6 separate regions of the Homo sapiens genome follow, and regions 2, 3, 4, 5 and 6 are each linked to region 1. The links come from fine-mapping of genetic effects on gene expression. A gene starts in region 1. Each other region holds a variant in brackets. All regions are shown on one strand. Distances are between the middles of the regions.

Region 1 (4,963 bases):
CATGAGCCACTGCACCTACCTGTTTGTTTTTTCCTAAACAAATAGTACTGTTTCATGTGTCACTACTTTTGAACACATTGCTCTCTCCTGGAATGTCTTTTTCTTTCTTCTTATCTACTTCCTGTCCAACTGACCTTCTCATGAAGTTTCTCCCTGACTCCCTGATTTGTGGTCCCTGGTTTGTGTTCACTTAGCACCTTGTATCATAATACTTTTCACCCTGTACTGGAATAATGAACCAGACTACACATTCCTTATCAGCAACCATGTCTCATTCAGCTTTTAATCCTCCAAGATGCTCCAAGTATGGCATCTGACACATAAGCAGTGAGGGCTCAGGACATATTTGATTGCTCACACCCCATGCCCTCGTTTTTCTCTCAGACATGTTTACACAAGTTCTTTTGATCGGGTTGCAACCAAAAGAAACTGATTTTAGTTTCTTTGAGCAAAACAGGCCTCTTCTAGTAAATTCACTCAACTGCCACTACTTTGGGCAAGCCACTTCATTCAGTGAGTATTAAGGGTCTATCACATGCCAGGCGCTGTTCTAAACCCAGAAGAATCCTGTTTCAAAGAGTTTATAATCTAAGGGAGAAGACAGCAATAGACAATTCACCTTTTACAGGAAATGCGCAGTCTATTTCTGGGCAGTGTGAGGTGTATCAGAATATATATAGTATTCTGGAAATCAGGGAAGAAGTTGCAGCTGACACTGTCTGGATGAACTTCAATTGCTAAAAAATCAGGGAAGAGGATGCTGGGAAGACAAGAGTAGGCGGCATTTGACCTGGATTTTGAAAGATGAGTAGGAAACTGATGTGTACTTTGGAGGCTGTTGAAGAAAACCAGAGCCAAACAGTAGTTGAAGTGGTAAAAACATTTTATTCAGGAACTAGTGCAACAGGAGCGAGACCTCAGAATAGATACAGAACTAAGCTCAATTCTCTTATTGCATTAGTTTCTTAATACCTTTTTTTTTTTTTTTAATCATTGGCCCTGGTTTTCTTTAAGTGGGGGAGGTGGTGATTCAGGACATTTCAGATACAGACAAAAGAATGAACAAAGCAAAAAGGAGTAAAGAAACTTAGAGAAAAAGTAAATAATCCAAAGAAAGTTGAGTAGTCAAGGAAAACAAATTATTTGTAGCCAGAGCCTCCAGTAATGTTGGGGAAGTGGCAAGAGATGAGGGACGGTAGGACTTTTTTAATAATTCAAGTTACCAAAAGTGAAGTTATCTGGTGATATTTAGAAAATGAAATGTTTTTCTGTTTATTCCTAGGAGCTCAAATGGGAAAGGTAAGTGAACAAGTGGCTGGAATGCTATGCCAACAAGTTTGGATTTTATCCTGCAGCGCCAACTGGGAGTTCTCCGAGAGCTGTATGGTATTTTACAAAGGGACTGTAGTCTTTATAGGTGATAGGCTGGAGCAGCTCGTAGCAGTCCCTCTCCTGGCCTCAGTTTACTCGCTGGTAACACGAATCCGGTTGGACCAGATGCCCTCTTAGGTCCCGTCTAACCTCTATGGCATGCTTCCGAGGTACCTCTGCCTCTTTCCAATACCAGGACCTGTGCCTCATCTCGTCCTTCCTTCATACCTTTGTCCAGCTGCCACCTTCCCTAGTCCCTGGCCTGCCTCAGGTACTTTCAATCAGGAAGTGAGGGGCGGGGAGGGAGGGAGGCGCGTCTCCAGTAAAAACAAACTAGTCCCAGCTCCGCCGCCTTTCCTCCCAGGCAGCACCACCTGGGTGGTGCCCCGGGGCCAGACGCGCTCTAGAGTGGGCAGGGAGCCAAGTTTCTCGGTCGCTTTTCCGTCCTAGGTCTCTGGGGTGGTAGGCCGACCCTCCCCACAGCCAAGCCATCTCGGGGAGCAGAGCAGGAGCCCGTGCCTCGCGCGTTCCTGGTTCCTCAGACACAAAAGCCTCTAAGTCCCGGCAGCAGCCACCGGATTTCATGGGGACACTCCAGTGGCAGGGCCTCGGGGCGGGCCTGAGACGGCCAATCGGCTTCTAAAGAAGTCGGGTTGTAGGGCCCGAAGAGCAGGGTTTCGGCCGGGGCCGGGGCCGGGGCGGTGCGGGATGCTCGGCTGGGTAGCGTCCCGGGCGCGCGCTGCACCGGGTCACGTGAGGCGGCCGGGGCCACGTGACCCGGCGGGCCCGGCGCCCTGGCGCTCCTCCTCTTCGCTGCCGGTGGGCACCGCCGCTCGCTCGCACTTCTGCGCCCATTGGAGCTTCGGAGATCCCTGCGGTCCCGCGGGACGGCGCGGCAGCAGCTGACCTCGCAGGTAGCGTGTGGGCGCGGGGTCGAGCTCGCGGAGGCCTCTTCCCCCTCGGCCCTGCCCCTGCTTCCCTTCCCCGCAGGCCGGGCCGGGAGTGCCCCGTTACTCCTGTACCTCCCGCCTCCCTCGCTCGGGCTCCCGGGCAGTCCCTGCGGGCGCTGCGTCCGGGGCGAGGGATGGGGTCCCCGGCCCGGCCCCGCCAGCACCTCAGCTAATGTGCTCTCCTGCGAGGAGGAGGGAAGGATGGGGAGAGGCGAGGGAAAGTTTTCCCTGCCTCCCTCTCTTTTTTGAGGTGCACGGACTCGATTTTGCTCGTAGCTGAAGTCTGACTGCTGTGGGTGCCGTTTTACTGAGAGGAGATCTCCCCTCCGACTCTTCCTATTCTCTCTCCTTTCCAAGATCTTAGCATCTCTCCTTCGTCTCCTGAGAGTAGTGCTGTCACAAACCGTATTCTTTATCGTTTCCCTTTCCGACACAGAATCCACAAAGGCAGGGATTTTGTTAGTGAGGACTTTTATCCAGGCGTGCGGTGAACTCTAAATAAGTGACGTTTCCCTTGTCTGCCTCTGATAAAGTACCTACCTGCTCGGTTTAAGATGACTATCGAGCACGCTGTGTTCTGCTCGCATAAGTGGCCTTTTGTTTTTATTTATTTGCATGTAAGACACTTTCAAGCCATCTGCGGAACTCTGCAGCTGGGGATTACAATTTTATAAAGCAGTCTTGTAATAATGCTTTTAGAAAACCAGATTCATGATCTTCCTTGCTTTTGCCCTATTCTTTTTTTGGGAGGACTAAAAGCCCTTAGAGGACAAAAACTGAGTTTCTGAAACTGGTGTGTATTGTGGGCTAATAACATTAAAACATCAAAGTATATAATGCCGGAAGGAATGGAAAAATGATTGAATCCTGAGGGCAGTTTATAGGTGCTTTAAACTTTAGAGTACTCATTTCAAGTGAGCACTGGGTGAATTTCACCCGTTTAAACTGCTTTCAGGGTCGAGGATGTAACTGTATATTTGGATTCTATTAATATAACAGTTCATCTGTGGGATGGACTTTAATCCATTTAATCCATTGTGTGAATATCAGTCTATTTATTAATACTCTAGACGGGTCCTTTTTCTTCTACCCGCTAGTCTGTTTCTCTTGAAGAGGAAGCATATTCATCTTTAAAGAGATTTTTGCAAGTGATTTTTTTAAGTGTGTGATCCAAATGATAAAGTTCTGTGAACTTCAGAAAACAAGTAGCCATAAAAACCCAAAGCTGTCAAGCTTGTAGCTTTTAAAAAATGATTTGAAAATTTTAAAGCGTGCCCGTATGCTGCAGCAAGAACTTGGCTCCACCTAATATACGGGAGCTGGGAAGTCTGAAACAGTACCCTCCTTTTCCTGGGAGTCATTGTGGGGTAGATGAAACTGTGAAGGAAAGTGAGGACCTTTATTATGATGATGATATCCCTTCTGTGTGTACTACATTAAACAGTAAGTCATGCATAGGAAAGGAGGCTGGGGCCTCACAGAGTCTAGAATCTAGGCAGGGCATTCGGACACATTTCAAAATATTCTCTGGTTTTACAAAAAGTTAAAAATGTTACATATTGGCCAGGCGCAGTGGCTTACATCTGTAATCCCAGCATTTTGGGAGATTGAGGCGACAGATTACACGAGGCCAGGAGTTCAAGACCAGCTTGGCCAACATGGTGAAACCCCGTCTCTACTAAAAATACAAAAAATTAGCTGGGCGTGGTGGTGTGCGCCTGTAGTCCCAGCTACTCAGGAGGCTGAGGTACGAGAATTACCTGACCTGGGGAGGCAGAGGTTGCAGTGAGCCGAGATTGTGCCACTGCACTCCAGCCTGGGCGACACAGTGAGACTCCATCTCAAAAAAAAAAAGTACATGTTGTGTACGTGCTGAAGAATGCACAAGAGGGGTATGATGAGTGTTGTCTGAATTTAGCCAGAATAGACTTAGTAGAGGAGATCAGTTAATGAAATAATTATATAAGTCAACTGTGTGTTAGATCACATTTAAAACACACACACACACACACACACACACATACACAAAAGCACACTTCTTTCCTGGGGTAGAAAAGCTCACAGAGGAGACCAGATGGGTACCTCTAAAGACTTACGGTCTCCAGCTTTCTCTGGGCTTGGTCTTACCATCCTGCTAGGTTTCTCTGCTCAGTGCTCTTTCCCATCCTCCCTGGTGACTGCTTCAGACTTCACCATTTTACCCCCAATTGCTCCACTCCACTTTTTTCTTTTTGAGACAGGGTCTCACTATGTCGCCCAGTCTGGAGTACAGTGTGCCATGTGATCATAGCTCACTGCAGCCTCAAACTCCCAGGCTCAAGTGATCCTCCCCACTCCCAAGTAGCTGGGACCACAGGTGCGCACCACCACATTCGACTAATTTTTTTATTTTTTGTAGAGACAGGGTCTCCCTATGTTGCCCAGGCTGGTCTTGAACACCTAGCCTCAAGCAGTCCTCCCGCCTTGGCCTCCCAAAATGTTGGGATTACAGGCGTGAGCAACCACACCCGGCCTCCACTCCACTGTTTATTGCTACCTCCCCTCTTACTCTTAGCAAAAAGCCTAACTCTTTCTTCATAGGGGAAAAATAGGTGACCTCAGAAGAGAATGGTCTCCAAATGCCAATCAAAACCATGAGATAC
Region 2 (4,963 bases), 53 kb before region 1:
ATCCTAGCACTTTGGGAGGCCGATGCAGGAGGATCACTTGAGCCCAGGAGGTGGAGACCAACCTGGGCAAGATGGTGAGACCCCCATTTCTATTTTTTAAAAATCTTAATTAGCCAGGCATGGTGGCCCATACCTGTTGTCCCAGCTACTCAGGAGGCTGAGGCCAGAGGATCCCTTGGGCCCAAGAGTTTGAGAATACAGTGAACTGTGATCACACCACTGCACTCCAACCAGGACAACAGAGCAAGACCCCCATCTCTAAAAATGTATAATACAATTAAAAATAAAGAAATACAAGTTGACTAGATGAACACAGGATCTCACTTAATTCTCACAAGAACCTTGTCAGGTACTTCCTAGCATCATTTCCATTCTGCGGATGAGGTAGTTACGGCTTAGAAGGGTTAAATAATTGGCCCAAGGGTACCCTATTGGTGAGGGGTAGGGCTGGTGTTCTAGTCAGTTCTGACTGACTTCAAGCCCAGACTCTAAGGCAAGACACTCAACTGCATTTAGACAATGCCAGTTTGGACAAAGGGTGGTCTTGCATCTCCCTTTTTGTAGCAATTCTCTCACAGAAGTATTTTTATAACTCTGAGAAATCTTTATATACATTTCTTTATATCCTTTATATTTTCTCTCCAGGTTAAGCCAGCACTTAACACCACATGAAATTGAAGTTCATGGAATTCAAAGACGAGGTAAAATAAAAATTGCAAGAGATGTGGTGTGTGATGTTTCTAATCCAGAGATTATTTATAATTAGGCTGCCTCCTTTTATTTGAAGGATTGGAAGTGCTTTTATGAGAACCAGTTTGTTTAGGTTTGCAATTTCATGCTTGAAGGAACCTGCAAAAATATCAGTGTGCCCCAGATCAGGGGCAAGCAGGAGGACTCATTGTCAGGTTCTAGTTCGAGATCTAAGGCAGAATAATGCCATTTCTCAAGGAGAATTTAAAAATACTTATCATCTATAGCTACACAGCCAAGTTTCCTGGGGGTGAATGTCTCAGAGGAGTGGAAATCAAGACAATTAAGTGAAAATAAAAGGCTTTTTTCTTTTCTAAAATTGTTTTGTGGCCAGGCATGGTGGCTCACCCCTGTAATCCCAGCACTTTGGGAGGCCAAGGCAGGAGGATCACTTGAGCCCAGGAGTTCAAAAGCAGCCTGGGCAAAAAGCAAGAACTTGTCTCTAATAAAAACATTTTTTTTCTAAGATGGAGTTCTGTTCTTGTTGCCCAGGCTAGAGTGCAATGGCACTATCTCGGCTCACCACAACCTCCACCTCCCAGGTTCAAACAATTCTCCTACCTCAGCCTCCCGAGTAGCTAGGATTACAGGCATGCGCCACCATGCCCAGCTAATATTTTTTTTTTCTTTAGTAGAGACGAGGTGTCTCCATGTTGGTCAGGCTGGTCTCAAACTCCCAACCTCAGGTGATCCTCCCACCTTGGCCTCCCAAAGTGCTGGGATTACATGCGGGAGCCACCACGCCTGGCCTTCTAATAAAAATTTTTAAAAAATAACCAGACATGGGGGGCATGCCTGTAGTCCCAGCCAGTCAGAAGGCTGACATGGGAAGATCACTGGTGCCCACGAAGTTGAGGCTGCAGTGAGCCATGATTGTGCCACTGCACTCCAGCCTGGGTGACAGAGTGAGAACCCGTCTCTAAAAATAAATAAATAAATAAATAAATAAATAAATAAATAAATAAATACTTGTTTTGTTTTTCCTGAGCTGCTGCTCTTATGAGCCATGTGGGAAGGAAACTCCAGGTCACCCTTCACACACTGTAAAAGACTTTCCTTAGTGAGTTCAGGAACAGTCACAGGTGTTCATACTCTTGCCCATGGGGAGGGCCGCAAGTCATGTTGAACTGTGTTCATCATTTCCTAACTAAGCACCCTCCAAAAACCACCTTGAGTTTTCCCTTGCTCACTAGGATGCCTTTGAGTTGAGCAGTTGATCTGACTGATCCTGGGTGTGGCTGAAAGCTCACAGAGTCAGGGGACGATGGGCCTGTGGAGAAAATATTATTAAAAGTCAACCTCTGCCAACC[CA/A]GGAAATCTCTCCACAAAGGGAGTGGAGAAAGAAAACTGTTTCATTAGTGAATAAGCACTCAACTAAAATGTAATGCACATCCCACACAATCCCCTAAGAGACTACAAAGACAGAAAGAGACCTCACCCTTTTATAGAGTCATGCAGAGGTGACCTATTCCAGACAGGTTCTCCACATAGACAATAGCTAGTCAGTCCTCAAGTAAGAGGACTTGACAGCCCCATTTGTTGCACAGAGTTTACCACAGATTCACCTGGTAACTGATGTCACCATCTATGTTAGCTAATTGGCTTTATTCAAAGGAAAAACAAACCTCTCATAGCTTTAGGACAGGAGGTAGTTTTGCAACTTAGAGCGAGGCACCTGCCAGGTCAGGCTCCTACCCTCCCATTGAAACTCTTGATGACTACGTTTCAAAAGGTTGGCTCCTTGGTCCTTGAAAAAGATATTTCTAAGTCCTAAAGCTGCCAAGAGGCTTATTTAGCTTCTTAAATTTATTATTTATTATTATTTTAAAGCACAGGGCCCCTGTTGCTGCCCAGCTGGAGTGCAGTGATGCAATCATGGCTCACTGTAACTTTGAACTCCTGGCCTCAAACAGTCCTCCTACCTCAGCCTCCAAAAGCGCTGGGGATAACAAGCGTGAGCCCCCTCACCTGGCCCTTATTTAGCTTTTTAAAAGATTTACATACATCTCAAAGAGACAGAGGAAAGAACTTAAAAGTTGAAGTTTCCTAAAGTAAAATCTCTAAGAAAAGGGAGGGAGGTGAAGTCTCTTCCCTTATTTTCCACAAGGAGAATTAAAACTCTTATTTTTTTAGTTGATACATAATAGATGTATATACTTTTGAAGTATATGTAATAATTTGGTAACATTAATATAATCAAATCACGGCAACTGGAATATCCATCACCTTAAACACTTATCCTTTCTTTATGCAGCGGAACATTCAAATTATTCTCTTGTAGCTTTTTTGAAATGCATATTAGATTAATGTTAATTATAGTCACCCTACTGATCTATCAAACAGGCCTCTTCTTTCAATGTGAATTTGCAGACTAGGCGCAGTGGCTCATGCCTGTTATCCCCACACTTTGGGAGGCCAGGGCAGGAGGATTCATTGAGGCCAAGAGTCTGAGACCAGCCTGGGCAACATGGCAAAACCATGTCTCTACAAAAAATTAAAAATGAGCCGAGTGGGGTGGCTACTCCACGTAGTCTCAGTTACTCAGGAGGCTGAGGTGGGAGGATCATTTGAGCCCAGGAGGTGAATGCTGCAGTGAGCCAAGATCGCACCACTGCACTCCAGCCTGAGTGACAGAGAGAGACCCTGTCTCAAAAAAAAATTAAAAAAAAATTTTTTTTTAAATTGTATTTGCTCTTACAGGCCCAAGAGGCAGCAGCAAAGGTCAGCATCTCCACCACCCCATCAGGTCTTGCCCATGTTGACCCAGGTGCTGGGACAGGAGGCACACACTGAACTTACTGCTCCCGTTGACTTCTCATCTGGTTCCAGGTCTCCACTTTCCACCCCTTTTCCTCCACAGACTAAAAGCTAAGTCATTCTGGGTGTGACGTGTGTCTAGAAAGAGTGTGTCTGGCTTCTTGTTTTTACCACAAAGTGTGCCTGAGATATAGGTCTGTGCCGCCATTTTGGCTCTCAAGCCAGGGAACCTCTTGGTGTTCTCATTTTGGAATTTTATTCTGGAAAGTTCGGAGGACCCAGGGACTCCTTACTGTGATACCCGATTCTCTGGCTTTAATCAATTATTCATTATTCACTCAGGTACTTAATGAACAACTCTCAATATCTAATTTTGTTCCAGGCTTTGAAGAGGGTCAGAAGGATGGAAGACTTGGCCCCTCCTCTCTAGTAGTGTACACCATGCCTGAGGAGACCACATATCAACATGGAACAGCCCCGGTTAGGGCACAAGGGCGCTGGGGCCTGGACAGTCATGCCATGGGAGCTCAGTGGGAGGCTGGACTTAGGCTGAGGTGCGTGGGGAGAGCTTCCTGGACAGCTGGGATCTAAGGATGCTTAAATCATGGACAGGAAAGCAGCTGCAGCCTAACGAAGAGCAGGGGTGTTAGGAGGCTTCCCTAAAGTTCTGTGACCCTGTAGAACTGTTGCCACTGCTATGGTCACTGCTGCAACTACAAGCACTGCATCTGGCATGGGAGCTTGATGGACCAGAGCACATGCAAAGAGGGCATCGGAAATCCCAGAAGGGTATGCGGGACCTTGTACCCTGTGGGATTCCCATGCTTACTTCAGGCAAACAGTAAGCCAGTAAGTGGATGGCTGGCAGAGCTTCCCCCAGACTCTGAGGCTCTCAAACCCATCTTTCGTGCAGAGAGAATTGTGTGGTTATCATCCCCAGAACTCACCTGCTGAGTAATTCGATGCGAGTGATTTGATGTTCAGTCCCTCCTAGCAGGAGGCAGACCAGCAGGGAGTTACAGTTAACACTAACTGGGCATGGCTATTGAGGCAGGAGAGTAGGGTCTGGAGGCAGGGAACCTAAGGCTGATTCGCGCCGAATTCCTAGAACTGAATCAAAAAGAAAAGCCCACCTCTCCACACCCAAATAACAAAAGGATCAGAGGCTACTCCCTTTGCAACCCCCCAACTTCCCCTGCATTGCAGATGAAAACTGAAAGTACCTCTGATTGGTCCCCTCCTGCAACCAGTCAGGCTGGTCACAGGCCAAGTCTTCATTTGCAGAGGAGTATAACTTTGTAAGTTCACTTCAGCCTCTGATTGGTCACTTTCTGCAATCAATCAGACATTTGCATAGGGTGTAACTTTGTATCTTCACTTCAGCCTCTGATTAGTTGCTTTCTGCAATCAATCAGACTGATCGTGGGCCACTATTTCATTTACATAGGGTGTAAAC
Region 3 (4,963 bases), 130 kb after region 1:
CTGCCAGCTGAAAGGGCCTATAAACAAGGACACTCCAGTAACAACAAATACACCTATCATTCAGACCTTGGTTTCTAATACCATTTTCCAATAAAAATATTGACAGGTTATTCAAGAAATGGCTCACTCTAAGATGCGTAAGAAATATACGAGAGCAATCTAGAGCAATCTTCGAGTGCCAAAAGGGAAGTGCTATAAAACAAAGACAAATAAAAAATACCTACACTGATGACGGTATATCAAAGGGACACAAGAGCCAACTGAGCAGGACATGGTGGTTCATGCCTGTAATCCCAGCGCTTTGGGAGGCTAAGGCGGGTGGATCACTTGAGGTCAGGAGTTCGAGACCAGCCTGGCCAATATGGTGAAACCCCCATCTCTACTAAAAATACAAAAATTAGCTGGGCGTGGCGGCACACACCTGTAATCCTAGCTACTCAGGAGGCTGAGGCAAGAGAATTGCTTGAACCCAGGAGGCAGAGGTTGCAGTGAGCCAAGATTGCGCTGCTGCACATGAACCTGGGCAACAGAGTGAGACGCCATCTTAAAAAAAAAAAGAAAAAAAAGAGCCAACTGAAAGAGCTCCCAATAGCCAAACCCGGGACAATTTGAAAAACAAAATAAATAAAGTAGTACTGGCTTGTAACTCAAAAAGTATAAAATAAATAGCCATGAGTCCATGCTGATATAAATGATTAACTGAATAAATAAACAGGGAAGAAGAGAGAGAGATAAATCTCCCCTGCAGAAATATTCCAAATATAATTAACGTAGATATTCCACATTTAAGGAGGGGGAGCATAAATCCCCACTCCTTAACTGTGGGCTACCTATAGTGATTTATTTCCGAAGAGTATAGCAGGGAATGGGAGAAAAAGAGTAACTTTACAGTGGAGAAATTTGATACCACCACCTACATTAGCCAGCTCAAGCTCTGTTGATCAAGTTCAATATCAACTCTGAGAAATCATGCTGACAGCATGTACCCTTGATATGATGTGATGAAAATGACATTTTACCTCTGAGATCACACTCCCCAAAACCCATCGCTCCAGTCAAATTATGGAAAAACATCAGACAATAATTCCAACAGAGGGGCATCTTACAAAATATTTGGATACAAAATCCCAAAAAAATAAAAAACAAGAAAAGTCTCAGAAACTATCACAGCTAGGAGGAGCCTAAGCAGACATGACAAGTAAATGGAATGTGGTGTCCTGGATGGGATCTTGGAATGGAAAAAGACATCAGGTAAAAACTAACGTGAATATACTATGGACTTCAGTTAATAATAATGTGCCAATATTGGTTCATTAATTGTAACAAATGTAGCATCCAAATGTAAAATGTTAATCATAGATAAAGCTAAGTACCAGGTTTACTGGAACTCTGCAATCCTCTCAATTTTTCTGTAACACTAAAAGTATTTTGGCCAGGTGCAGTGGCTCACCTATTTTGGCCAGGTGCAAGTGCTGTAATCCTAGCACTTTGGGAGGCCAAGGTGGACAGATCATGAGGTCAGGAGTTTGAGACCAGCCTGACCAACATGGTGAAACCCCATCTCTACTAAAAATACAAAAAATTAGCTGGGCATGGTGGCACATGCCTGTAATCCCAGCTACTCAGGAGGCTGTGGCAGGAGAATCGCTTGATCCCAGGAGGCAGAGGTTGCAGTGAGCCAAGATTGTGCTACTGCACTACAGCCTGGGCGACAGAGACTCCATCACCAAAAAAAAAGAAAAAAAAAAAAGTTTACAAAAAAGTCAATTTTTTCACAACTAATGATAAAGACAGTCAAAATTGGTGGCTATACAAGAATAAACCCTTAATTCCCTCTAATTCAGAAAAGTTCCTCGCAATGCAAAACCTTGACAATTCCACATCAGCTTACATTGTCTATATACTTTTATACTTTTAGATATAAAGTGTAACAGTGTGTTCTTCAACCTACCATTTTTTTCTCCCATCTTTTGATGTCGCTTATAAATATAAAATGCTTCAAAATTAGGTTTATCAAATCACTTTGATTGCAGAATATCACTGGAATCCAACTGTGGTCTCTATAAAATTTGCAGTCCTCAGACAAAATACATCATTATACCATTCTAAACCTGGTATCCTTTGATACTTGAATTTTCAAATAGAAATTGTGGCTGAAGAAACTTTCAGAAATGAGTGACAGTCCAACCAAAAGACAAGTCCATGAATCTTCTCACGTAAATATTTGTAGTGGTATCAGATCATTAACATTATCTTTTTAAAAATAAAAACCAACTCCATCTTTTGGTCCACAAATGGATGAAACATTCTGTAAGGAAAACAATAAAGAATAGTGCATATTTGTAAAGGACCACATATATATATATATATATATATATATATGTATATATAAGGAAATAAGATATTGTTATAACAGCTTGATCTTTTAAAACAGCATGAACCATTACAAAAAAACATTATGTTATCTGGAAAAAATATGTAAAGTATCAAAATTAGAAATAATAGAGAAGGCCCACCCAATCCT[A/G]TCACCCATATTTAATATATTTGTATTTATATTACTATCTCCATTTTATAAGTCTTTTATAAACCTTTTAAAAAGGGGATAATACTAACTATCTCACAGGTTGTTCTGAGGACAAGACTTAATTACATATAATGTGCCTGACATACGAAAGATTCAAGGAATACTACCAATTATTGTTATTCTTTCAGAATGTAGTTTTAAAACAAAAATTTGGATTGTAGTATATTTAATTTTTTATAATCTTTCATTAAAAACATTTCCTGCATTTTCCTCCATCACTAATATTTTTGTATAATACAACTGGCTGTATAACATACTTTGGTCAATAACGCATACATTATAGTACATTAAATATTTTAATAATTAAATTTTAATAAAAATATTAATTAATAATATAAACCTCTATATTCGATATTTAGATTGTTTTCCTTTATAGATTAATTTTTAGTATAATAAATAATGCTAAAATAAATATACTTTATACATATCTCTGGCAATTTCCCTAGGATAACATATCTGGAGGTAGAATAATAGGTCAAAAATAGATCAACAATTTTAATTCTCAAGATGTTAGTCAAGATACTGTAAATTCTTCTGCCACTTCCACACCAAACCATGGAAATGTTAGGAGATTTAAAATATATATATATAGCCATGCTGAAAACAAAAAGGGAACTCTCTAAGGGCCAAGTCAGTAAGGCCCTTCTGGGGAAAGGAAACAGATGGGAAGCTATAGAGATGATGGCAACCACAATCACAACAGCAAAACGATGGGCAGGAATCCTCTCAGAGGAGATTAATGCACAACTGAGAGTCCTCAAATATCTGAAGAAGGCTACACTATGAAAGAGACTGAGCTAAAGAAGGAAATCTCATCCATGAAATAACACACAATTTTGAAAAAAAGCCAGTTAGCTATCTTGGATATAAAAACAGTTGTTGAAATAAACTCAATAGATGACTGAATGACAGAACAGACTAACATGAAGAGCCAGTTAGTAAGCTGGAAGACTGAGTTGAGTAATTCACCAAGAACACAGAGCAAGGAAACAAGAGGAGGCAAAAAATTGAGAAAATGGAGAGGAGGCAATAATGAGCAAGAATTTCTCAGAACTGGAAAACACATAAGCAAACTGAATCCACTGAGTACCAACCAGGATAAAATTCTTAACACACATCGCTAGACAAACCGTGACTAACTTCAGAATATCAAAAACACAAAGTCTTAGATGTTTCCAGAAAAATGTAGATTATCTAAAAGGAAGGTGTATTAGACTAGTAATGAGATTTCTCATCAGAAATGTCAGATGCAAAATGTTAAAGCAAAGTCAGTATGAACCCAGAACTCTATATCCAGCCAAGCTATCTTTCCATACTAAAGATGAAAAAAAGACATTTGCAGACATTCAAAGAGTCACTCAGAGACTGTGAAAGAAATAAGTATCTGATGATGAAAAATGAACCTATAAGAAAGCACTGAGGTATACGTAGCAATAGTGAGCAAATAAATGAGTAAAACACATTAATGTTAAATGTAAACTGAATTTAATAACAAATGAAAGAAAAATTCTTAAAGATATCATGAGAGATTATGTTCTTTTCTGGAGGAGAGATGGAAGGGATTGTTTCAAGATGAGAGAAAGCAAAGTAGAAGCATGCTAACTTCTTCTTTACAGGGGCCTTATCAAAACTGACTAAATGTACACTTTGTTAAGAAAACATAAATTTAAGAACTGTGAAATGTAAAGTTAATCAACTTAAAAAAAAATGAACAAAGAAAACTTGGGGCTAACCTCAATTAAAAATAAAAGTGATGCCAGCGCTTTGGGAGGCTGAGGTGGGTGGATCACCTGAGGTCAGGAGTTCAAGACCAGCCTGGCCAACATGGCGAAATCCCATCTCTACCAAAAATACAAAAATTAGCTGGGTGTGGTGGTGTGTACCTGTAATCTGGGCTACTTGGGAGGCTGAGGGAGGAAAATTGCTTGAACCTGGGAGGCAGAGGTTGCAGTGAGCCGAGATCACGCCACTGTACTCCAGCCTGGGCAACAGAGCAAGACTCTGTTCCAAAAAACAGGTGGAAAAATAAGATATAAAAGATACAAAGAGAAGCTTGTTAAATAATGACAAGAATAAGGCCAAAATATGTCAATAATCACAATAAAGGTGAATTACCTATTAAAGGGCAGACTCTCAGATTGGATGGCAAGCAAAACCCAGATATGATATTTTAAAATAAGAGACCCACTTAAATTACACAAAATGTCACAGCAAGGCTGAAAACGAAGAGACTGGAAAAAGACATCTGCAATTATAAGAAGAAACGTATCAAATAAGAGTTGAATATGAAAATCAATAAAAGACACAAATATTTTATGCTGACAGAACAATTCACCAGATTTAATATTCATGACCCTTTATGTACAAATAACATCACTC
Region 4 (4,963 bases), 36 kb after region 1:
GGGACTGTGTGTGCGATGTGGCCTTGGGGCTGTGTGTGGCAGAGCTGTGGTGTTTGGCTTTGTGATTCTTCTGTTTATTAACATTCTCATTTTGGACAAAAGAGATAACCTTCCCTTCTCCCTTCCCCCTTCCTCCTTCTCCCTCCCTGCTTCCCCCTTCCCCCTTCTCCCTCCCCCCTTCCCTTCCCTTCCCTTCCCTTTTTTGAGACAGAGTCTCTGTCACCCAGACTGGAGTGCAATGGCACGATCTCGGCTCACTGCAACCTTCACTTCGTGGGTTCAAGTGATTCTTCTGCCTCAGCCTCCTGAGTAGCTGGGATTACAGGTGTGTACCACCATGCCCAGCTAATTTTTGTATTTTTTAGTAGAGACAGGGTTTCGCCATGTTGGCCAGGCTGGTCTTGAACTCCTGGCCTCAAGTGATCTACCCACCTCGGCCTCCCAAAGTGCTGGGATTATAGGCATGAGCCCCACCGTGCCTGGCCTATGCAAAAGTGTTTTGAGTAGTAGCCAGAATGAACATGAGGTTGATATGATTCTTATGTAGCTCTCTGAAATAACCACCTGTGATTGATAGGTGTGAATGCATCTTGGTATAATTACTGCAGTCTTGCTGTTGCCCTTTTAGTATGGAAGACAAGTAAGGTCTATGGCCATGTTGATGTTTATGGTGTAATATAAACTTTTACTTTGAGCCAAGTAAAACAACTTTTAAATAAATCTGCTCTTGAAAGGACATTATCTGTTTAAATATTGATTTGATATAATATGTGTTACTGGAATAGATGCTTGATGTTGTTCAGCCTAATTGTAAGGTCTTACCTCCTATGTCCTGGAGTGCTGACTTCTGATTATGAGACCTTACCCAAGAAGCATACTACTGAGAAATATAGTAAGTTTGGCTTGTTTTCCTTTTGGATTGGAACGTTCAGAGTCCGTGACCCCCAGCCAATGCTTATCAGCCCAATGAGTGTTCTGAGCTCTGGTAGGAGATGAGAGAAAAAGTTACATTTATAAAGAAATGGGCCAGGCACGATGGCTTACACCTGTAATCCCCAGCACTTTGGGAGGCGAAGGCAGAGGATCACTTGAGCCCAGGAGTTGGTGACCGGCCCTGGCAATATAGCGAGACTCTGTCTCTATAAAAAATACAAAACTTAGCCGGGTATGGTGGTGCAGCTGTGGTCTGGGAAGCTGAGGTGGAAGGATTGCTTGAGCCTGGGAGGTCGAGGCTGCAGTGAGCCATGGTCATGCCACTGCGCTCTAGCCTGGGTGACGGAGTGAGATCCTGTCTCAAAAAAGAAAAAAAAAAGAAATGGTATTTAAGCCATCACATTTGTTAGGGCATTTTCTCAGTGTCCACTTTCCTCATTTGCTTGGATTTGCTGGTCTGTTTTCCAAGTTTTCCTCGGCGGTCTGTGTGATCTATCCTAACTCACAGTGAGCTGAGGATGAGAAGTGGGCATTTGGGAAAGGAGAACAGTGCTCTTGCCCTGATCTGTTGCTTTTGTTGCTGTGACTTGGCAGCTAGTGTCCCTGGAACTTGGACTGTTTTCTGAGGTATTGCAAGCATGAACTTTTAAATTGCCTTGTGTGGTGTGCTGTGGGCTTCTGTGATCATGAAGTAACATGCATTTTTCTTAAAACTTTTCAGGGTGGTAGAGATTGCAGCCTGTCACTCTGCCCACACGTCTGCAGCCAAGACGCAGGGTGGGCACGTGTACATGTGGGGCCAGTGCCGGGGTCAGTCCGTGATCCTCCCGCACCTCACCCACTTCTCCTGCACCGACGACGTGTTTGCCTGCTTTGCCACTCCCGCCGTCTCGTGGCGCCTCCTGTCTGTGGGTAAGAAAGTGCAGGGCCACCTCCACCCAGGAAGAATGGTACTACCAACTGACCAGTTTTCCTGTGTCTTTGCTGGTTTTGGGATCTCTCAGAATGTTTTATTCTCTATTAGCTTTCATACGTTCCGTCAAAATAGATGTGCATAATCAAATGTATTCATATATTATAAAATATTACCATGAACTTTAAATTTTCTCTCATAAGTGCTTTCATTTCAATTGATATCAAATTCGCATAACATGCAATTAACCATTGTAAAGGGTACAGTTTAGTTGCGTTTAGAACATTCATAATGTTGTACATCCACCTTTTTTTTTTTTTTTATTGAGACAGAATCTCACTCTGTCGCCCAGGCTGGAGTGCAGTGGTGCAATCTCGGCTCACTGCAACCTCCACCTCCCGAGTTCAAGAGATTTTCCTGCCTCAGCCTCCCAAGTAGTAAGACTACAGGCACCAGCCACCACACCCAGCTAATTTTTGTATTTTTAGTAGAGGTGGGGTTTCACCATGTTGGCCAGGCTGTTCTCGAACTCCTGACCTCAGGTGATCCACCTGCCACTGTGCCTGGCCTACATCCACCCTTTATGTCAAATTCTAAATTGTTTTAATCACCCCAGAAGAAAGCCCTTATACGTTAATTAGTCACACTCCATTCTCCTCTCCCCCCAACCCCTAGCAACCACTAGTTTGCTTTTTGTTTCTATGGATTTGCCGACTCTGGAGAGTTCATATAAGCGGAAGCATACAATATGTGACCCATGTGTCTGGCTTCTTTTACTTAATGTTTTTGAGGCCCATTGACGTAATATGTCTCTGTATTTCATTCCCTTTTATGACTGAATAATATTCCATTATATATATATACACCATATTTTGTTTGTCACTTAACTGTTGATGGACATGTGGGTTGTT[C/T]CCACCTTTGACTCTCGTGGGTAGTGCTGTCATGACTGTTCTTGTATAAGTTTTTGGGTAGCCTGTTCTTAAGCACTTCTGTTATACTAGATTTCTTACAGAACTTGATATAATACCAATCAAAGATGAACTTTCTTTTCTTTTTTTTTTTTTTTTTGAGACGGAGTCTCACTCTGTTACCCAGGCTGGGGTGCAATGGCGCGATCTCGGCTCACTGCAGCCTCCGCCTCCCAGGTTCAAGTTCTCCTGCCTTAGCCTCCTGAGTAGCTGGGATTACAGGCGCGTGCCACCATGCCTGGCTAATTTTTTTATATTTTTAGTAGAGACAGAGTTTCACAATGTTGATCAGGCTGGTCAGGAACTCCTGACCTCGTGATCCGCCCGCCTCAGCCTCCCAAAGTGCTGGGATTACAGGCGTGAGCCACTGCGCCTGGTCCAAAAATGAACTTTCAAAAAAGTGAAGAACCGGCTGGGTGTGGTGGCTCACACCTGTAATCTCAGCACTTTGGGAGGCCAAGGTGGGTGGATTGCTTGAGCTCAGGAGTTTTAGACCAGCCTGGGCAACATGGCGAAACCCCATCTCTACAAAAAATAACCAGGAGTGGTGGTGCCTGCCTGTAGTATCAGCTACTCAGGAGGCTGAGGTGGAGAATTGCTTGAGCCTGGGAGGTCAAGGCTGCAGTGAACTGTGGTCGCACCACTGCACTCCAGCCTGGGTGACACAGCGAGACCCTGTCTCAATAAAAAAAGCAAACAACTTGTGGTTTTTAAGGTGACACATTAACCCCATCTTCTTTCTTTCTATCTTTGTCTTTCAACTGATTTCAAATTCTTTTATTTCAGAAGGGCATCAAAACAGAGGTATTATAAAGGGTAGTGGAATTTGGGGTGATATTTGGTTACATAATCTGTACCTTTTCTGAATATTGTCTTCTTTAAGAGTCCATTATTGGCTGAAAAAGCTAGGATGTCTTAAAACTGAGTAGCCATTTACAAGGTGACTTTAATCTTTTTATTTTATTTCTTGTTTATGTTTGCCTTTTTGCTAGCATATTTCTTTTAAGTTGTTTTATTTATAAGCAGAGGGAATAAGTGGGTCATGATGCTCTGTGCTTGAAAATTAATGTAGTTCTTGGCAGTTAAGGTGTTTGGGTTGTTCAGCAATTGATATTGAAGGTTAATTTTCTAAAACGTCATGCTTAGGTGTGTCAGACAGGTGGAGTTGTCCCAATTAGGTGACCAGTCATGGGCATGGAGGCAAGGGTGCTTAGGAAGAGTTAAGCTTGCCTTAAAGTGAAACCAATTGAATACTCCCTTTCACTTTATTTTTGCCATGTTCTTTAGGTATAATACAGTATTTTTTTTTTTTTGCAGTGAGTATTGTGATTGGAAAATAATTGGTTCACTGAATGGGACTATTTGGCCAGAATTGCACATGTATGGCATACCCAGCTGAAGCACTTCTGTACACATCTTCAGATTTGTATATACTACTTAACCTGGACTTGTTATAAAAGGCTTCCCCCAGTTCTTATATCTTAAAATGGCACAGGCATTCTTTTCAGAACAAATGTCCTAACAATTTAAATGTTAAGTTTGGAAAAAATATGGTCATTGACTATATCCTCCTAGATCAGGGGTCCCCACACCCCAGGCCATATGCCTGTACTGGTCCGTGGCCTGTTATTAACTGGGTTGCACGGCAGGAGGTGAGTGGCAGTGAGCGAAGCTTCATCTGTATTTACAGCTGCTCCCCATCACTCACATTACCGCCTGAGCTCCACCTCCCATCAGATCAGCAGCGGTATTAGATTCTCAAAGAAGCGTAAGCCCTATTGTGAACTGCACATGCGAGGGATACAGGTTGCGAGCTCCTTATGAGAATCTAATGCCTAGATGATCTGTCACTGTCTCCCATCACCCCCAGATGGGGCCGTCCAGTTGTAGGAAAACAAGCTCAGGACTCCCACTGATTCTACATTATGGTGAGTTGTGTAATTATTTCATTACATATTACAGTGTAACAATAATAAAAATTAAGTGCACAATAAACATAATGTGCTTGAATCATCCCCAAACCATCCTCCTCCCCGCCTCGGTCCGTGGAAAAATTGTCTTCCACAAAACTGGTCCCTGGTACCAAAAAGGTTGGGGACTGCTGTCCTAGATAACTTCTTTCCCTTCCACCCACTGAAAGTCAAAAGTG
Region 5 (4,963 bases), 21 kb after region 1:
GACTTATTTGGCAATTGGTCTTCAAAGTGTCCAGTTCAAAGATGGAGAAAAGGCGGGGTATAAATAAAGAGATCCTGAAGTTCAGGAAGACTATGGCTTTGATAGTTTCTCTTTTTTCAGTTTCTTGATTTAATACCCGTCTACTCCATAGCACTCTGAGTTTCATAATATAGACAAACATTCTGAAACGTAAGCAATGTCCACAGAGGTTGAATTTTTCTTAACAACCATATCAGTCTCTTTTCACCTCCTGAGCTCTGTAGTTGAAATGTCTTATTTTCAGAGGAGAGAAGGGAGCTTTTAATACAGCTTTCGGTCAAAAGACTCAGAAAAAAAACTATCTATTTTCTAGGTCTTTGTATTTGGACTGAACTATAGTAACTGTCTAGGAACTGGAGATAACCAGAGTACACTTGTACCCAAAAAGCTAGAAGGCTTATGTGGAAAGAAGATTAAAAGCCTCAGTTACGGGAGTGGACCACATGTTCTTCTCAGCACCGAAGGTAAGGAGGGAACCCATCTAACTTTTCAGTTTGTAAGAAATTGACCGGTTAATTCTAAGCTTAGGGGAGATAGGGCTATACCAGATAACTGATTTTGGATTGTTTGCTTCTTAATTTCTGAGAGGAAGTACATAAAGCAGGTGAAAGTTAAACACTTCGGGCTAACTCTGGAAAAGCTATAGGATGTCTTGCAAATTAGGCAAACTTCTGAGGTTTTCGACTGCCTCCATAAAGCTGTGGATGATTAGATATAGCAAATGATGGTCCTTCCAGCCTAATTTTTCAGTGGATTTGTGTTGCAATGCAACTTTTTTATTTATTTATTTATTTATTTATTTATTTATTTTATTTTATTTTTTTATTGATCATTCTTGGGTGTTTCTCGCATAGGGGGATTTGGCAGGGTCATAGGACAATAGTGGAGGGAAGGTCAGCAGATAAACAAGTGAACAAAGGTCTCTGGTTTTCCTAGGCAGAGGACCCTGCGGCCTACTGCAGTGTTTGTGTCCCTGGGTACTTGAGATTAGGGAGTGGTGATGACTCTTAACGAGCATGCTGCCTTCAAGCATCTGTTTAACAAAGCACATCTTGCACCGCCCTTAATCCATTTAACCCTGAGTGGACACAGCACGTTTCAGAGAGCACCAGGTTGGGGGTAAGGTCATAGATCAACAGCATCCCAAGGCAGAAGAATTTTTCTTAGTACAGAACAAAATGGAGTCTCCTATGTCTACTTCTTTCTACACAGACACAGCAACAATCTGATTTCTCTATCTTTTCCCCACATTTCCCCCTTTTCTATTCGACGAAACCGCCATCGTCATCATGGCCTGTTCTCAATGAGCTGTTGGGTACACCTCCCAGACGGGGTGGCGGCCGGGCAGAGGGGCTCCTCACTTCTCAGACGGGGTGGCTGCCGGGTGGAGGGGCTCCTCACTTCTCAGACGGGGCGGCCGGGCAGAGACGCTCCTCACCTCCCAGACGGGGTCGGGGCTGGGCAGAGGCGCTCCTCACATCCCAGACGATGGGCGGCCGGGCAGAGACGCTCCTCACTTCCTAGATGGGGTGGCGGCCGGGAAGAGGCGCTCCTCACTTCCCAGACTGGGCAGCCGGGCAGAGGGGCTCCTCACATCCCAGACCATGGGCGGCCAGGCAGAGACGCTCCTCACTTCCCAGACGGGGTGGCGGCCGGGCAGAGGCTGCAATCTCGGCACTTTGGGAGGCCAAGGCAGGCAGCTGGGAGGTGGAGGTCGTAGCTAGCCGAGATCACACCACTGCACTCCAGCCTGGGCAACATTGAGCACTGAGTGAACGAGACTCCGTCTGCAATCTCGGCACCTCGGGAGGCCGAGGCTGGCAGATCACTCGCGGTTAGGAGCTGGAGACCAACCCGGCCAACACAGCGAAACCCCGTCTCCACCAAAAAAATACGAAAACCAGTCAGGTGTGGCGGCGCGCCCCTGCAATCGCAGGCACTCGGCAGGCTGAGGCAGGAGAATCAGGCAGGGAGGTTGCAGTGAGCCGAGATGGCAGCAGTACAGTCCAGCTTCGGCTCGGCATCAGAGGGAGACCGTGGAAAGAGAGGGAGAGGGAGCGGGAGTGGGAATGGGAGCGGGAGCGGGACAGCTGCAATCCTATTCCTTAATAGCTCACTGGTCTTTGTTCTGCAATGCAACTTTCAGGGTTCCTTTGGTACGTTTTTCTTTTCTTTCTTTCTTTTTTTTTTTGAGACGGAGTCTCTCTCTGTCGCCCAGGCTGGAGTGCAGTGGTGCAATCTCGGCTCACTGCATGCTCCACCTCCTGGGTTCACGCCATTCTCCTGCCTCAGCCTCCCGAGTAGCTGGGACTACTGGCGCCCGCCACCATGCCCGGCTAATTTTTTGTATTTTTAGTAGAGATGGGGTTTCACCGTGTTAGCCAGGATGGTCTCGATCTCCTGACCTCGTGATCC[G/A]CCCACCTCAGCCTCCCAAAGTGCTGGGATTACAGGCGTGAGCCACCGCGCCCGGCATTTTTTTTTTTTTTTTTTTTTTTTTTGAGAAGGAGTCTCGCTCTGTCTCCAGGCTGGAGTGCAGTGGCATGATCTCGGCCCACTCAACCTCCATCTCCTGGGTTCAAGCGATTCTTCTGCCTCAACCTCCCGAGTAGCTGAGACCACAGACGCGTGCCACCACGCCCCGGCTAATTTTTGTACTTTTAGTAGAGACTGGGTTTCATCATATTGGCCAGGTTGGTCTGGAACTCCTGACCTCGTGATCCGCCCACCTTGGCTTCCCAAAGTGCTGGGATTACAGGCATGAGCCACTGTGCCCGGCCGGTACATTTTTCTAAACATAGATGCTACCTGGCTTTCCTTTCTTTGTGCATTGCTTGCATCTTGAATCGGGAAATCTTCATCTGTTCTCTGGCATTCATGTAGTTGCCATATTGAAAGAACCGGGGATGCAGGTTGATAGGTTCTTGTCCTTTTTTACTCTGCCTCTTCAAGATCACTAAGGGAGAGTGGACATTTTGTATGTGTGTGTAATCGATCTGTACTGTGGGCACCCAACACTCTCTGAAAATTCATTATCTATTTAAATGCTTCCTTTTATACTTTAGATACATTAACTCTTGCTCTCTTTCTCTGAGGTCCTCAGCTTTTTGTTGGATAATTGTCTAGGGTGGCATTTGGGAGATGATTTGCATCCCGGCCTTTCTTTGTCTAGACTGAGGAATCACAGCTTCCTAGAATGCTGTCACAGGTTTTAGTATCTAGCCTTCTAAGTGCCTGTAACTCCTAACTGAATCTACTTCAAGTTCTCTGCATCTTTCTCAAGAGAGCTGTGAAATCCAAATCTGAGCATCATCATGTGGTATGAATATAACTGGAGTTGAGCATAATGAGGTGATTATCTCACTTTTGCCTTGCGTAATCATGCCTTCTGGCATCACACTGGTTCTTTCTTTCCTTTTTTTTCTTTTGAGACAGTCTCGCTCTATCGCCTAGGCTGGAGTGCAGTGGCACGATCTCAGCTCACTGTAACATCAGCCTCCTGGGTTCAAGCAATTCTCATGCCTCAGCCTCCGAAGTACAATTAGAGGCATATGCTACCATGCCTGGCTAATTTTTGTGTTTTTAGTAGAGACAGGGTTTCTCCATGTTGACCAGGCTGATCTTGAACTCCCGACCTCAGGTGATCCACCCATCTCAGCCTCCCAAAGTGCTGGGATTATAAGCATAAGCCACTGTGCCTGGCCTTTTTTTTTTTTTTTTTTTTTTTTTGAGGCAGGGTCTCTCTCTCTCTGTCACCCAGGCAGGAGTACAGTGGAGTGATTATGGCTCATTGCAACCTTGACCTCCTGGGCTCAAGCGATCTTCCCACCTCATTTTTAAATTTTTTTGTAGAGATGAGGTCTCACCATGTTGCCTAGGCTGGTCTCAAACTCCTGGGCTCAAGTGATCCTTGTGGCTCGGCCTCCCAAAGTGTTGGGATTACAGGTGTGAGCCACTATGCCTGGCAACTTTTGCTATTTTGTATGTGACTGTTTTTTCCTCTTTGGAAGCTTCAAGGATCTTTTTTTTATTTTTATTTTTATTTTTTTAAGTATTGTGACATAATCATGATTCTGTACTCTGGTGTAATTTTTAATTTATTGTATTGGTCATTTCTGGAAATTTCTTCTTGTAATATTTCATGAATAGTTTCCCTTGTTGGCTGTGTGTGGTGGCTCATGCCTGTAATCCCAGCACTTTGGGAAGCCAAGGCAGGACGTTTGCTCCAGGCCGGGAGTTCAAGACCAGCCTGGTCAACATAGCGAGGCCATGTCTCTTAAAAAAAAAAAAAAAAAAAAAAAAAAAAAAGCCGGGGATGGTGGCACGCACCTGTAGTCTCAGCTACTCAGGAGGCTGAGGCAGGAGGATCAGTTGAGCCCAGGAGTTTGAGGTTGCAGTGAGCTATGATTGCGCCACTGCACTCCAGCCTTTGTGACAGAGTGAGGGTCAGAGTGAGACCCCATCTCAAAAAAAGAAAAATTTTCTTCTTTGTTTTCTCCTTTATGGAATTTTTCTTAGAAAGTTAGAGATTCTGGAGTGATCTTCCAAATTTTTTTTTTTTTTTTTTTTTGAGACAGGGTCTCTCTGTCCAGGCTAGAGTGCAGTGGTGCAATCTTGGCTCACTGCAGCCTCACTGTGTGAGCAGGTGGTTCACACCTGTAACCTCCTGGGCTCAAGCAATCCTCCCACCTCAGCTTCCAAAAGTGCTGGGATTACAGGTGTGAGCCACCATGCCTGGCCTGATCTTCATGATTTTTTAAAAATGTTCTCTCCCATCTGTGTTCTGGGAAATTTCTTCAACTTTATCTTACAACGCTTATGTCAAATTTTTAACATTCCCATTGTTTTATTTCCAAGTGTTCTTTCTTGATCTTTAAATGTTTCTTTCCAGAACTTGTTGCTATTGTTTCATGGATTCAGCGTCTTC
Region 6 (4,963 bases), 160 kb after region 1:
CATCTTTGAAGTAAACCATTTAATTTCTGGAATTTAGAAATATATATTCAAAATATGTGATTGTAATCATTGACTTGTTTATCTTTGCTATGCTTTTTACTTAACTTTTGTGGTAGACCGTTGTCTATGCAAAAGTCATACCAACCTCCTACTTTCCTGCTTTCTTTTTATGATTGAGGCAAAAAATGCCACATACTTATTTTTCTAGGCTCCTTGGCACTTAGTGGGTAACTGTTTTATTCTCTTCAGGCCAAAGAGATATAGAAGTTTATTGGAGAGCTCCCTGAACAATATTTTCCCCCTAAGAAAAGAGAAGTTATGTGAAGAAGTTCCCCCTTTCCCTCCCTGTTTCTTTCCTTCCTTATTTGGGTGTTGTAAATGAGACTCTGCCTGGAATTGCCAAGCCACTGCAGCAGCCAGCCTCCAAGATGGCCCCCACCACCTGCTGGTATTTGCGCCCTGTGGATTCATTCTTCTTCCATACTGTGCCAAGACTGGTCTGTGTGACCAATAAAAAACAGCAGAATGTTAATTTTAAGATTAGATTATTAAAGACATTGCAGTTTCCATCTTTATCACGCTTTTGCTGATCACTTGCTCTGGGAGAAGCTAGTCAAGTGAGCATCCCTATGGAGAGGCCCAAACAGCAAAGAACCAAAGCCTCTAGCCAGTAGCCAGTAGTCCTTCCAGCTCCAGTCAAACTTCATGATGATTGCATTCCTGCCTGAGGCTGACATTTGAGTCAGAACCATTGAGCTAACTACTCCTGGATTCCTGACTCTCAGAAACTATGTGAAATAATAGATCTTAAGCTATGTGTTTTAAGCTTACAAGTTTTGGATAATTGTTACACAGTAGACAACTAATTTGATACTGGCACTAGAGGTTGATTGATGCAGTAGACTGATTGTGTCCCCACAAAATTCCTATGTTGAAACTTAATCCCTAATGAGATGGTATTTGGACATGGGGCCTTTAGGAGGTGATCAAGTCATTAGGGTGTAGCTGTCATGAATAAGATTAGTGTCCTTGTAAGAGTCCTGAGAGAGCTTGTTTCGCCTTCCACTATGTGAGGATACAGCGAAAAGATGGCCATCTGTGAACCAGGAAGTGGGCCCTCACTGGACCCTGAATCTGCTGACACCTTCATCTTGGGCTTCCCAACCTCCTGAACTGTGAGAAATAAATTTATATTGTTTATAAGCCACCCATCTATGTTATTCTGATATAGCAGTTCAAATGAAGTAAGATAAGTGATGTCAACAATTTTTTTTTGAGCTAGGGTCTTGCTCTGTTGCCCAGGCTGGAGTGCAGTGATGCTATCACAGCTCACTGCAGACTTGACCTCCTGGGCTAAAGCAGTCTTCCCATATCAGTCTCCCAAGTAGCTGGGATTACAAGTGTGCACCACCACGCCCAGCTAATTCTTTTATTTCTTGTAGAGATATGGTCTTACTGTGTTGCCCAGGGTGGTCTCAAACTCCTAGGCTTAAGTGATCCTCCTGCTTGGCCTCCCAAAGTGCTGGGATTGCTTTGGGAACAATCCCATATGAGCCATGGTGCCCAGCAACAAATATTTTAAGTGGGCATGGCTTTGGAACTTCGTAGTGGATGAAAGGTGAATGGACATTGAAGACACTGTCAGTGTAAATCTAAAGTATCTTGGAGAAACTGTAGACTCATGTTTTTTTGGTGAGGTTGCCAGGAAGGGCTTAAAGGAAAATGGGAGAATCTTTTTAGAAACTGGAGGAAAGGGGATCCTTCTAATATAGTAGCATAAGCTTTATAATGCAACACTGTCACCTGTAGTAATGTAGAAACTAGAATGCACATAATGAACTGAGTACCGTAGCTAAGAAGATTTCCAACTAGACTTGAAGGTGCCACCTGGTTTGTGCCTAAAGAGTGACAGGAGCAAGTATGCTAAAGAAAGGATTGATAAACCTGAAGGTGCTGAGACTTGATAGTTTTGACCATGTCAGCCTCTCCAAACAGTAAATGATGCTAAATTAAGAAATGGCTTCTTCTAAGTGAAAGGGAGAAATAATAATTTTCCTCAACCTTCATAAGTTCGTAGTTGGGACAGACTCCTGCAGCAAAAAACAGATGAACAAGAGAGAAACAAACACGTATAGTAATGCTGCAGTGCAGTTCACATGAGAGAAAAGTAACTCAAGAGTGGCTTAGAGTGGTTTAGAATCCCAGCTCATAGAAAATCTTCAATAAAGAGCAATAAATTGGCTGGGCGCGGTGGCTCACTCCTGTAATCCCACCACTTTGGGAGGCCGAGGCAGGCAGATCACGAGGTCAGGGGAACGAGACCATCCTGGCTAACACGGTGAAACCCCGTCTCTACTAAAAATATAAAAATTAGCCGGGTGTGGTGGCAGGCGCCTGTAGTCCCAGCTACTCAGGATGCTGAGGCAGGAGAATGGCTTGAACCCGGGAGGCGGAGCTTGCAGTGAGCTGAGATCATGCCACTGCACTCCAGCCTGGACAACACAGCGAGACTCCGTCTCAAAAAAAAAAATATTTTAAAGAAGCATATTTTAGGGTGAAATATTCTGGTTTCCTTCTTGAACAAGGATCAGATAGATCCAAGGCATTGTCAGGAAAACTAAGGACAAAGTTGAGAGTGTGGCTGTAAAATCCTTTGTTAAAATTTAAGAAAGATCTAAGTTTCTGCCTCAGAGTACTTTTCAGTCACATAAAAGGGCCTCTAAAGAAAGACTAATGGTGTGACTGACCAATCCATTCAATCAAACAATAGCGCGTCCAAGAAACTTAAGGGGATGGTCCTTATCCTGCAGCCATTTCAGCAGAATCTCAAGGTAGAGGAGGGCTTATCTGA[A/G]AAAGATTTGTGCGTGTGGCTTTTGTTTAATGCAAAGAACCCCAGTGAGATTCCTAGGACCCCCACAAAGCTTTAAGAGGAATGTATTTTAAGGATCACTACTAGTTTGGATTAAAGGGGTCAGAGAGTACAAAATGAAAAGATGCCTTTGGACCCCCAAACTTCTACAAGTAGGAAGCATGATGAGAAAACTGCTTAGCAGAAAGCAAGTGCTACCTTTCATTAAAAAGAAAGAGTGTCTCAGAGGGCTGAACCTGGAAGATGGATCCCAGAGCCATGGAGAATCATTTCCCGATGGAAATAGGACTGAGTCTTAACGAATTTCCAGATTTCCAACATTTCCCTCTGTATTTTAGTAACCTGATTCTATGTACTTTGCATTTCCCTCCTTTTTTGAAAAGGATTGTCTGTAATGACTATCTCAACCTCACTAAAAATTGTGTGGGTCAGTGAATTAACTTGCTTCTTTAGCCCAGGGGTTGGCAAACCTTTTCTGTAAAAAGCCAAATAGTAAATATTTTTAGCTTTGTGCCTGTTTTTGCATAGTTTACCAAATAATTTTGCTACCAGAGCTATGCATTTTGCTATGTCTTGATTCATTTATTGTATTCCTACTTGGAAATTATTCCCTTGGCAATGCACAACTGAACTTTTATACTCATCTCTATATACGTGTGTATAGACATATGTATTTTTCTACATATGCCTATATTTTTGTATATGGATATTTTGGGTAGCAAGCTTTGTAATGATTTCTCCTAGTCTGTTACATTTATTCCTATAATTTTTGTTTTATTGATTGCATAAAAAGTTTTTATTTTTCATGTAAAAATAAAAGTTTTCAATATTGAAATTGTCTTTTTCTTCAGGACTCAAATTTTTCTTCTAAGGTAAAGTAAAAAAATGTTCTCCTGTTTAGTTATTTTTTGACTTTTCTTAGGTTTACTTTTTTAACCTCCTGAAATATATTACCATGTGCATTGTGAAATATTAATTCAGATTCATTCTTTTCTAAACTGACATCCTATTTCATTATTTATTTAATTGGAATTGCTTTGTGCTTGTTACATTTTAAATTAGTTTTACTACTGAAAAGTTTTTGGCCGTGTTTTCTGCTTAATGCATTCTTGTGGATTTTGTCAATCGTAGCTTTATAATGGTGTAATTCTGGTGAAATGAACTCAGTACCATTAACTTAAAAATATATAATTTGATATTCCCATCCTCTCATTATAAAATATACATTAAACTTATTTAGAAATTCCTGTCAGGAGCAAATCTCCATATACTTATTTATTCCATAATATATTCATGTATTCCTTTATTTTCCATCATTGGAATTTTTTGACTTTTAAAAACTAAATTAGTGTTCTGAGAAGTTAATTCTCAAGTTTTAAAATAAGTTTTATTTCTTAAAACCATTCTAGATTTACAGAAAAATTGCGAAGATGGTGCAGAGGGTTCCCATATATCCTACAACCAGTTTATTAACTGTTACATATTAACATGTTACAATTAATGAACTAATACTGATACATTTTTACATTATCATTAATTAGAGTCCATACTTTGTTCAAATTGTCTTGGTTTTTACCTAATGAGCCTTTTCTGTTCCAGGATGCCACGTTACATGTAGTCATCATGTCTCCTTAGGCTCCTTTTGGCTGTGACAGTTTTTCAGACGTTCCTTGTTTTTTATGACCTTCACAGTGTTCAGAAGTGTTGGTTAAGTGCTTTGTAAAAGTGTTCCTCAATTTGAACTTGTCTGATGTTTTTCTCTTTATTAGACTGGGGTTACGAGTTTTGAGGAAGATCGCAGAAGCGCAGTGCCATTTTCATCACATACTGTCAATGTGACTTATCACTGTTGATGTTGACCTTGATCACTAGGGTGAGGTAGTGTTGGTGAGGTTTCTCCACAGTCAGGTTTCCATTACCCCTCTTTTCATGCTGCTCTCTGGAAAGAAGTCACGATCTATAACTTACACTCAGGGAGTGGGGAGTTATGTTCCACCTGCTAATTACTTGGAATTCTTCTGCACAGGAGATTGTCTCTTCTCTCCCGTTTATTTATTATTCAATAGCTTATGTCAGTATGGACTTGTTATTCTA

Evidence for each region. PIP is the estimated chance that this variant, and not a neighbour inherited with it, causes the effect. A credible set is the group of variants that fine-mapping cannot tell apart.
Region 2: its variant is the best candidate, but not a certain one, in a credible set for the expression of RCBTB1 in esophagus mucosa (GTEx, PIP 0.72).
Region 3: its variant is the best candidate, but not a certain one, in a credible set for the expression of RCBTB1 in whole blood (INTERVAL, PIP 0.88).
Region 4: its variant is the best candidate, but not a certain one, in a credible set for the expression of RCBTB1 in lung (TOPMed, PIP 0.51).
Region 5: its variant is the best candidate, but not a certain one, in a credible set for the expression of RCBTB1 in whole blood (TOPMed, PIP 0.52).
Region 6: its variant is the best candidate, but not a certain one, in a credible set for the expression of RCBTB1 in unexposed skin (GTEx, PIP 0.75).

What each region holds. Positions count from the first base shown.
Region 1 is chr13:49,582,766-49,587,728 of GRCh38, reverse strand. It overlaps RCBTB1 (RCC1 and BTB domain containing protein 1), which reads left to right and starts at 2,171. Exons shown (of 13, transcript NM_018191.4): 1 at 2,171-2,285. RefSeq lists a silencer at 1,938-2,647.
Region 2 is chr13:49,635,606-49,640,568 of GRCh38, reverse strand. LOC105370205 (a long non-coding RNA gene) reads left to right here. Exons shown (of 2, transcript XR_941964.3): 1 at 1-701; 2 at 3,451-4,963. Among named protein-coding and RNA genes, the nearest start is that of ARL11, 9.6 kb to the right of the region's middle. RefSeq lists an enhancer at 4,714-4,763. The variant CA/A (reference allele first, on the strand shown) is at 2,061.
Region 3 is chr13:49,448,898-49,453,860 of GRCh38, reverse strand. SETDB2-PHF11 (SETDB2-PHF11 readthrough) reads right to left here. Exons shown (of 21, transcript NR_135324.2): 2 at 1,952-2,308. SETDB2 (SET domain bifurcated histone lysine methyltransferase 2) reads right to left here. Exons shown (of 14, transcript NM_001160308.3): 2 at 1,952-2,308. The coding sequence starts at 1,967. Among named protein-coding and RNA genes, the nearest start is that of SETDB2-PHF11, 7.1 kb to the right of the region's middle. The variant A/G (reference allele first, on the strand shown) is at 2,525.
Region 4 is chr13:49,546,340-49,551,302 of GRCh38, reverse strand. It overlaps RCBTB1 (RCC1 and BTB domain containing protein 1), which reads left to right. Exons shown (of 13, transcript NM_018191.4): 9 at 1,655-1,845. Among named protein-coding and RNA genes, the nearest start is that of RCBTB1, 37 kb to the left of the region's middle. The variant C/T (reference allele first, on the strand shown) is at 2,758.
Region 5 is chr13:49,562,158-49,567,120 of GRCh38, reverse strand. It overlaps RCBTB1 (RCC1 and BTB domain containing protein 1), which reads left to right. Exons shown (of 13, transcript NM_018191.4): 4 at 353-503. Among named protein-coding and RNA genes, the nearest start is that of RCBTB1, 21 kb to the left of the region's middle. RefSeq lists an enhancer at 777-1,584. The variant G/A (reference allele first, on the strand shown) is at 2,455.
Region 6 is chr13:49,424,001-49,428,963 of GRCh38, reverse strand. All of the region lies in intron 3 of CAB39L (calcium binding protein 39 like), which reads left to right. Among named protein-coding and RNA genes, the nearest start is that of CAB39L, 18 kb to the left of the region's middle. The variant A/G (reference allele first, on the strand shown) is at 2,852.